Linked DNA regions of Homo sapiens: all the other regions are linked to region 1. The links come from fine-mapping of genetic effects on gene expression. A gene starts in region 1. Each other region holds a variant in brackets. All regions are shown on one strand. Distances are from middle to middle. Region 1 holds the start of MGST2 (microsomal glutathione S-transferase 2). Region 2 overlaps MAML3 (mastermind like transcriptional coactivator 3). Region 3 overlaps MGST2 (microsomal glutathione S-transferase 2).

Region 1 (2,762 bases):
TGAGACAGGGTCTCACTTTGTCACCCAGGCTGAAGTGCAGTGGAACGACCTTGGCTCACTGCAGTCTCAGGCTCCTGGGTTCAAGCAATCCCCTTGCCTCAGCCCCCTAAGTAGCTGGGACTACAGGCACGTGCCACCATGCCCTGCTAATTTTTGTATTTCTTTAAGAGATGGGGTTTTGCCATGTTACCCAGGCTGGTCTCGAACTCCTGAGCTCAAACCATCTGCCCATTTCAGCCTCCCAAACTGTTGGGATTACAGGCATGAGCCATCCTTCCAGGCCAGAATCTGCATCTCTAAAGAGCAGATTCTCCTGCCTCAGCCTCCTGCGTAGCTGGGACTACAGGTTCGTGCCACCATGCCCAGCTGATTTTTTGTATTTTTAGTAGAGAAGGGGTTTTACTGTGTTAGCCAGGATAGTCTTGATCTCCTGACCTCGTGATTCACCCTCCTTGGCCTCTTAAAGTGCTGGGATTACAAGTGTGAGCCATCGCGCCCGGCCGGTTTATTTTTTTAAAAATGGCTGGGCACAGTGACTTGTGGCTGTAGTTCTAGCTACTTGGGAGGCTGAGGCAGGAGGATTACTTAAGCCCAAGAGTTGGAGGCTGCAGTGAGCTATGATCGTGCCACCACACACTCCAGCCTGGGTGACAGATCAAGACCCTGTCTTAAAAAAAAAAAGTATGATTATTATCAGAGTCTCTAGGTGACAGTGAGAGGCAGCCTGGTGCAGGGGATAGGGCACAGTTGTAATCTGCTAGACTGGGTTCAAATCCTAAATCGGCCATTCAGAGCGTGAATACATTAGAACTGGCTTAAATTAGCATTTAAAATGTCAACAGGATTAAGTAAGTAGTTCCTTCTCACTTTTTCCACAGGAGGTGAGAAAGGTCTCAGCAAGGCCCTAGGAGGGAAGGGCGTGGGGATGAAAGGGATCCAGAGAGTCTGTGCATTGGCAGAGAAGATAGTGTAACTGGCACTGCGGCTGGAGGGCTGGTCCCACAGTGAGCTACAGCCCTGCCCGCTGGCCGTGGGAGAGGCTTAAAACAAACGCCGGAAGCAACTCCCAGCCCCATAAAGATCTGTGACCGGCAGCCCCAGACCTGCCTGCCTTCCTGACTTCTGTTCCAGAGCAAAGGTCATTCAGCCGCTTGAATCAGCCTTTTCCCCCCACCCGGTCCCCAACTTTGTTTACCCGATAAGGAAGGTCAGCATTCAAAGTCAAGAAGCGCCATTTATCTTCCCGTGCGCTCTACAAATAGTTCCGTGAGAAAGATGGCCGGGAACTCGATCCTGCTGGCTGCTGTCTCTATTCTCTCGGCCTGTCAGCAAAGTAAGAGGCATGGGAAGTTCGTGTGTGTGCGCGTGTGTGCGTGTGTGTGTGTGTGTGACAAGGCTTGCGGGAGAGAGAGGGAGGGAGGGAGATGGGTCCGGTGTTTTGTTTCCTACTTGCCCTTGCAGGTAGCTCTGGGTCCTCAGAGCACAGTCGCCTCAGGGTCACCCATGCCGCCTGCTACCCTCCTTCCCAGGGGCAAGCAGAGACTGAGAACATTCCAGAGATTAGTTCTCCCAACTGGAACGCTGTGGGGCCTCAGAGCTCAGCGATTCTGCATCATCTGTGATTACGACCCACAGCCCGTTCAAACGAGCGTTAGTAGCCTGCTAACCTGCAGGAAGTGGTGTGAATATTAATTACAAGTGTTCCAAAGGAAACGTGCCTGCTTCTAAACCTGGTTGTGATTTCTTGAACGTTGATGTTTTAATTAATGTGTTTTCTTAAATAAACTGCCTATGGTGGTATGATTATCAGATTGAAAAAAACTTCCTTCAGAAATATTAGCTTTAGATTAAGTAATTAGCTCTAAATTTTAAAACAGCTTCCCACTAGGATTATTCAATATCTCGACTGCCTGGTTAAATAGAGGGCTTTTACTCCATGGGAGTCACATTTGCTCAATTCATATTATCTTACCTACAATGTCAGCTGGGGAAAGGGGTCCGAGTGCAAGAGTGCAAGACTTCTTACCAAGCATGCATATTTCTTTATATTTCCAAGTATGCCTGTACCAGGAAATAGGGCCAAGCCGTAGACTGCTCAGGTTACACAAACAGCCAGAAGCAGGAAGGCCTCACAGCTGAGGATCCAGTCCAGGCCTCCGTGCATGCTCAATGTCTTGCCTAGCCAGTCTGTTTTGAGATTGTATGAAGATCTTGAACCTTCAGACTCACGTTTTGTGGTTTGATTCACACAATCTGTTGTGGAGAAGAGCAGGATATTTGTTTCTAATTAAAGAAGCACTTAGATCTGTTAAAAGGAAAACCCTAGACAAATTACATTTAACTGAGTTTAATTGAGCAAAGAACGATTCACAGTTGGGCATGGGGAACCGGAATAGGTTCAGAGAGACTCTGGGGCTGCCACGTGGTAGAAGAAGATTTATGGACAGAAAAAGGAAAGCGACTCCCAGAAAACGGAAGCATATAGTTCACGATGTACGGAGAAACCTTTAGGCTGAACTTAAAATATGTCAGAAGGCAGCTTTAGGCTAAACCTAATTTAGCAGGTCTAAGGCTCACTGTTGGTAGCATCCTGACTCACAGGTGCTACCAAACCTGCATGCGCCTTTATCCTAGGCCTGCAGGTCCACAGATGTCCCAAAGCTGACAGAGGTGCTCATCCTCCCTGTTTGCTGCTTGTGCAGGGGGCTGTGTGAACTGGGGCCAGAATGTTAGGGGGCTGGATGGAGTGGGGGTAGGGGTGG
Region 2 (2,762 bases), 210 kb after region 1:
TTTTGGTCAATTCAGCTCTCACTTTGCCAGGAACCAATGGCCATCCTCAGTTTTTTTTAAGTATGGAGGTTTGGAAGTCAAATTTGACGCCTTTCTTCCTTTCCTGTCCCCACCCCTGCCCACAGTCACTTCCACAATCTCTTGCTTTTTCTTTGGACCTATTTCCAGGGTCACACGCAGTCAGGTCCTAATTATTTTGTTCCAGGTATGCTGTTTCCTAGCATCTCTCCTGCCAATCACTTTGATCGAGATAGTACTCTCCTCTTTTCAGAAACCTACAATGACTACCCATTGCTTCTTGTATCACAAGCTGAATCTCTCTAATGAGCTTTGAGGGGCTTCCACACTCCCCTGGGTCCTCCTCCCTGAGCTGTGTCTTCCTCAGGTTGCACTTTTTGTTCCTTATTAACCCTTCGCAACCCAGTTTCCCTACTCCCCTTTCTGATCAACAGTCCATTAAAAATAAGGTAAAACAATGCACAGTGCTGACGTCTTTTTAAAAAGAAGAAAACCCTAGGACACTAATACAATTATCCTTTTGCTTATGCTTCAGTTATCGGTTGTAACTACTTGTTACATTAATTGGGTGTATCTTTGTTACAGAGGATTAATAAATGTTTTATTTATTTATTTTAGTTTCAAAAACATGCCTTGAAATTTCACCAGATTGGGTGAAACGTGTTTACAATACTAGGAAGTGAACAGCAGGCACTAATTTTTTGTAGCAGTATTTCTCATCAAGGCACATGCATTTACCTAATCCAAAAGATGGCTAGCTTTCTCAGTTAAAAGGTATACAGAGAAATAACCCTTGCATTTGATCATTGTAACTTGGACAACATTTCACTCTATTGAATATAAACGGGAATCTGTATGCTGTTATTATTTTAAAAAAAATTTTTTAATCCAGCTTTTAGTAGAGGATAAACTTCTTAATGGCAAGGACCATGGCTTTTACTTCCTTTGTGAGGCTCACAATAATGGGAACACAGCTTCATGTGCAATTGGTCTTCAATAAATGTTGCTAGGTGATTCATATTTGAATGGGAAATGGAAAGAAAAGCCTGACGGACTTAAAGGATTTGTGTGCATGCATCTTGCTGTGAATAATACAAATGTGGAGAGAGATGACTAAGTGGACAGCATAGGGCATAGAGAGCTTTGGCCCCTGAAATACTCAGTAACAGGAAGTTACAGTGTGACTAACTGTAACCAGGTTGTGAAATGGAAAGCAGAGGAACTGGAGGATGTACTGGAAGAACTCAGGGGTGCACACAGAAGTGAACTGCAGCATCAAAGATGTAATGCCTTTCCGGGTGAGAACTTCAGAAGGAAGGACAGCACAGGGGACAAAGGAAGGGATAGAAATGATAAGTGTCTTAAAATGAAAAGGTGATGGAAAGAATTCTTAAGGCAGAAATAAAAATCCTATCAATAACAAGGTTGGGTTTAGAGTTAAAAAAATAATCACACGGCCGGGCACAGTGGTTCATGCCTGTAATCCCAGCACTTTGGGAGGCTGAGGTGGGTAGATCACCTAAGGTCAGGAGTTTGAGACCAGTCTGGCCAACATGGCAACACCCCGTCTAT[A/G]CTAAAAATATTAAAAAAATTAGCCGGGCATGGTGGTGGGCGCCTGTAATCCCAGCTACTCAGGAGACTGAGGCAGGAAGAATTGCTTGAACCCAGAAGGTAGACGTTGCAGTGAGCTGAGATTGTGCCACTGCACTCCAGCCTGGGAGACAGAGTGAGACTCCATCTCAAAAAATAAATAAATAAATAAATAAATAAATAATCACGCAGATATTTTGTTTCCTACTTTAAATAAAAGCAAGGCTTCACATTTGACCACAGAATGTTGTATTGCTTCTCTGCTATGTGGCACAGCTTTGATATCAGGTCCAGGACTGCTAAGTGAAAGAAAAGAAATTTCTGGTATGTTTGGAGCCTATGATTTCATCCCTCCTCTCACTCCAGCACATCTGATCTATGTATCCTCAAAAATGGAGCTGCTCACCTTTGCCAGCTCAGTTCTTCCCATCCTAAGCTTTCCTGAGCCAGTACCACTTAAGCATGTTATAAAATGCCAAAGCCATTCATGGTCATTATGGTGTCCACAAATATGTTCACAAATTCTTGACACTCCCTTCAGAAGGGAGAACCTAATCCCTCTCTCCTGGAGTGTGGCTGGACTTAAATTATTTTGCTTCTAATGAATGAAACAATGAAGAAACGAAGGTGTGTGATTTCGATAGTATGTCATGAAATGAACTGTGGCTTCCTCCTTGGTCTCTCTTGAAGCTGACTCAGGGGAAGCCAGCTGCCATGTCATGAGAAAACTTAAGCAGCCCTGTGGGGAGGTCCATGTGGTGAGGAACTGAGGCCTCCAGTCAGCAGCCATGGGAGGGAGCCACATATGAAGTAGAGTCTCCAGCCCCAGTCAAGCCTTCAGATGACTGCAGCCCACTTGACAGCTTCACGGTAGCCTTATGGAAGAGCCTGAGCCATAACCACCCAGCTAAGCTGCTCCTGCATTCCCTTGAAAACCATGTAAGATAATAAATGTTTGTTGTTTGAAGTGGCTATGTTTTGAGCATAAGTTGTTACACAGCAATAGATAACTAATATGGTAATCTTTCCAATAGAGCTCTTCTTTACTTTGGAGTTAAGTTTTTAAGTTTTATTAAAAGGTCTTTTCATTATTTTGGAATATGTGTTTACCTGCATTTAATATGTAAATGGATCAGATGTTATAAAATGTTCAG
Region 3 (2,762 bases), 26 kb after region 1:
CCCATCCTTTAATTTTTATGATGTTTGTTTTATAATGAATATGATATTCTTTTCCAGTTGAATGTATTAGCTGTGCTAATGGATAAATCCCAGATTCTCCATGGTTTAACACAGTGGAAGTTCATGTCTTGCTCAAGTCTGGTCCTATGTGGGAGCTCCTGGGTGTGGGCCTCCTCTGCTGCAGGAGGATGTGTGCATATTTTTATGGGGCTGTGCAACTGTTAGAGCTATGCAATCAGAAAAGTTTGGAGACTAGTGTTGAAGGAACTGCCACATTTGGAGCTGCCAGGCCACAGTTTGATTCTTTTTCCCACCCCCAAATAACATAAACTTTGTAGTATACTTATTGACTGAGACAAGGCCCAAATAGCACTTAGTTTGGGCCATCCTTACTGCTCCTGGTTACCAGATCCAGGTGGGAATGTGCAGTAGTCCTGAGCCCCCAGGGCCCAGGCTCCATGGTACTGGGATGAACAACAAGGGGTCTCAGCAGCTTTAACTACTCAATCTCCACAGTGCCCACCAGACTCTTTCCAGTTCTTCTGGGTCTTACCCAGTTTTAGCACTTAAAGCTCCATGTCCCCCTAAATTCCTCAGTCCCAGGCAAACCAAGATAGCGTTCATGGGAAGCTTCAATATCAAAGGAGCAGGGGATTGTTCAAAGAGGGCTCTCGCCAGGGAATGAGTATACACAGCCTGTTTTCCCATGGACAGCCTGTTTTTCCAGTATGGACATGCAGAGAGGAGACAGTGGTCATAATCAACTCTACCCCCTGTTCTCACAGGAAGGGAAGATTGACAGCTACTGCAGGCTGTTTGCTGTTCCATTTGGGAAATTTTCCTGAGGATCCCCTGTAATAAGAGGATAGAATATATCTGCCTTCATGACTTAAAAGAGGCTATAAATTATTTTCATGTCAATGAAACTGTAATTAGCCACTGACAGGATTGTCAAGAAGTAATTTTCAGAGTTTGGTCCCCTTGAGTTAAACATGCCTGCTGACAGCTTACTGAGGACGTGTTATTGTGGGACACCATCCAGGCCTGGAGGGACCCAGAATCAGGCAGAAGGACATGGTCACATGGTGGAGGGGCTGGAGGAGGTGACAATTAGCAGGTAGAATGGGATTCCAGGTATTTCAAGGCCAAACCAATACTTGGTGCTTTCACCAGGCAGGCAGCAGGGAAGACTGTCAGCAACAAA[CAG/C]GGCACCCCACTGGCAGTCAGATGATGATGATGATGATGATGATGATGATGATTATTATTATTATTATTTGAGACGGAATCTCACTCTGTCACCCAGGCTGGAGTGCAGTGGCGTGATCTCGGCTCACTGCAAGCTCCGCCTCCTGGGCTCACACCATTCTCCTGCCTTAGTCTCCCGAGTAACTGGGACTACAGGCACCCGCCACCACGCCCGGCTAATTTTTTATATTTTTTAAGTAGAGACGGGGTTTCACCGTGTTAGCCAGGACGGTCTCGATCTCCTGACCTCGTGATTTGCCCACCTCGGCCTCCCAAAGTGCTGGGATTACAGGCATGAGCCACTGCGCCCAGCAATTATTTTCAATCTCTGAGAGATGATAGCAAGAAATGGGCAAAGTCTCATTTCCAAGGGACTAAGGCTTGAGGCAGGTCAGCAAAAGAGGGACCAGGGTGAAAGTACAATGAGCACAGCTGGGACGTGAGGTTGGGGTGAGCTCAGCAGTGACCAGCCACTTGTAGGGGACAAAGGGCCTATTTCTTGAGAAAGAAAGGTACAGAGATATGGTGCTGAGCTGCTCCAGTACTCCAGGTGTTGCCATCCTGTGAGCACAAACGCAGCTGCAATCACATCCTTGCCTAAATCTCAGTGGCTTCCAGCCACCTGCTGCTCACCCAGGATCCCAGCACCCCGGTTCCCCATCTTCCCAATTCCTTCTGGGAATACAGGGGATGTGCCCAGGGACACAGCTCCTGCTGGCAAGCAGCTGAAGCAAGGGGCTATGCCACTGTCCTGCTCCCCAGTCCTCTGTGAGTACAATACCCTCCCCAGGTTCTGGAGTGCCTTCCACCACCACCAGGAGCTGCTCTGGGTCTGTGGCAGAGGGAGATTAAGGGTGTGACTCTCCCCGACTTTGTCTCTTCTGTCATCTGAGGCATGGCACCACTTGTATCTGGAATCTCACCAAGTTTTTCATGAGGACGATCCGTCAGCATCTGTTCTGGTCTCTGGTTTCCCATTAGGTGTGAAACTAGTTCCCTAGCTTGTGAGGGCAGCAGGGGAACTCCAAAACATCCCCTCTATTTTTATTTCCTTTCTCCTTGCTCAAAGGCCTTCTTCCTCTTTCAGATAAGAGACACAAAAGCACACATGCCTATCAATTTATGTGGACAGACACCCAAAGGGCTTCTGCCCTCTGCAGTGCAGTTTGGACTTAGGACATTCTTACACAATATTATCTCTTTGTCCCCAGATGCCAAGCCAAGGCCACTAGAAAAACCTCTAAATAATTAGACTTTTATGAAGGCTAACCTGGGCTATTTTTGAAGGTGCTTTTAAAACAATCTTATCACACCTAATTTTGAATAAAGATATGTTGTGGAAAAACTTGATGCTTACATTTGGAATAATTTAAGGTGTATTACAAAACAATAAATGATGGGACAATTGTGTTATGTTTCCAAAAAAGTTCATATAAAATTTCAGTGAGTGGGCTGGGCGCGGTGGCTCACGCCTGTAATCCCAGCACTTTGGGAGGCCGAGGTGGGCGGATCACGAG

Evidence for each region. PIP is the estimated chance that this variant, and not a neighbour inherited with it, causes the effect. A credible set is the group of variants that fine-mapping cannot tell apart.
Region 2: its variant is the best candidate, but not a certain one, in a credible set for the expression of MGST2 in whole blood (TOPMed, PIP 0.80).
Region 3: its variant is the best candidate, but not a certain one, in a credible set for the expression of MGST2 in whole blood (TOPMed, PIP 0.84).

What each region holds. Positions count from the first base shown.
Region 1 is chr4:139,664,745-139,667,506 of GRCh38, forward strand. It overlaps MGST2 (microsomal glutathione S-transferase 2), which reads left to right and starts at 1,075. Exons shown (of 5, transcript NM_002413.5): 1 at 1,075-1,333. The coding sequence starts at 1,276. RefSeq lists enhancers at 634-1,833, 1,130-1,299.
Region 2 is chr4:139,871,323-139,874,084 of GRCh38, forward strand. All of the region lies in intron 2 of MAML3 (mastermind like transcriptional coactivator 3), which reads right to left. Among named protein-coding and RNA genes, the nearest start is that of MGST2, 210 kb to the left of the region's middle. The variant A/G (reference allele first, on the strand shown) is at 1,591.
Region 3 is chr4:139,690,441-139,693,202 of GRCh38, forward strand. All of the region lies in intron 2 of MGST2 (microsomal glutathione S-transferase 2), which reads left to right. Among named protein-coding and RNA genes, the nearest start is that of MGST2, 26 kb to the left of the region's middle. RefSeq lists an enhancer at 2,162-2,211. The variant CAG/C (reference allele first, on the strand shown) is at 1,205.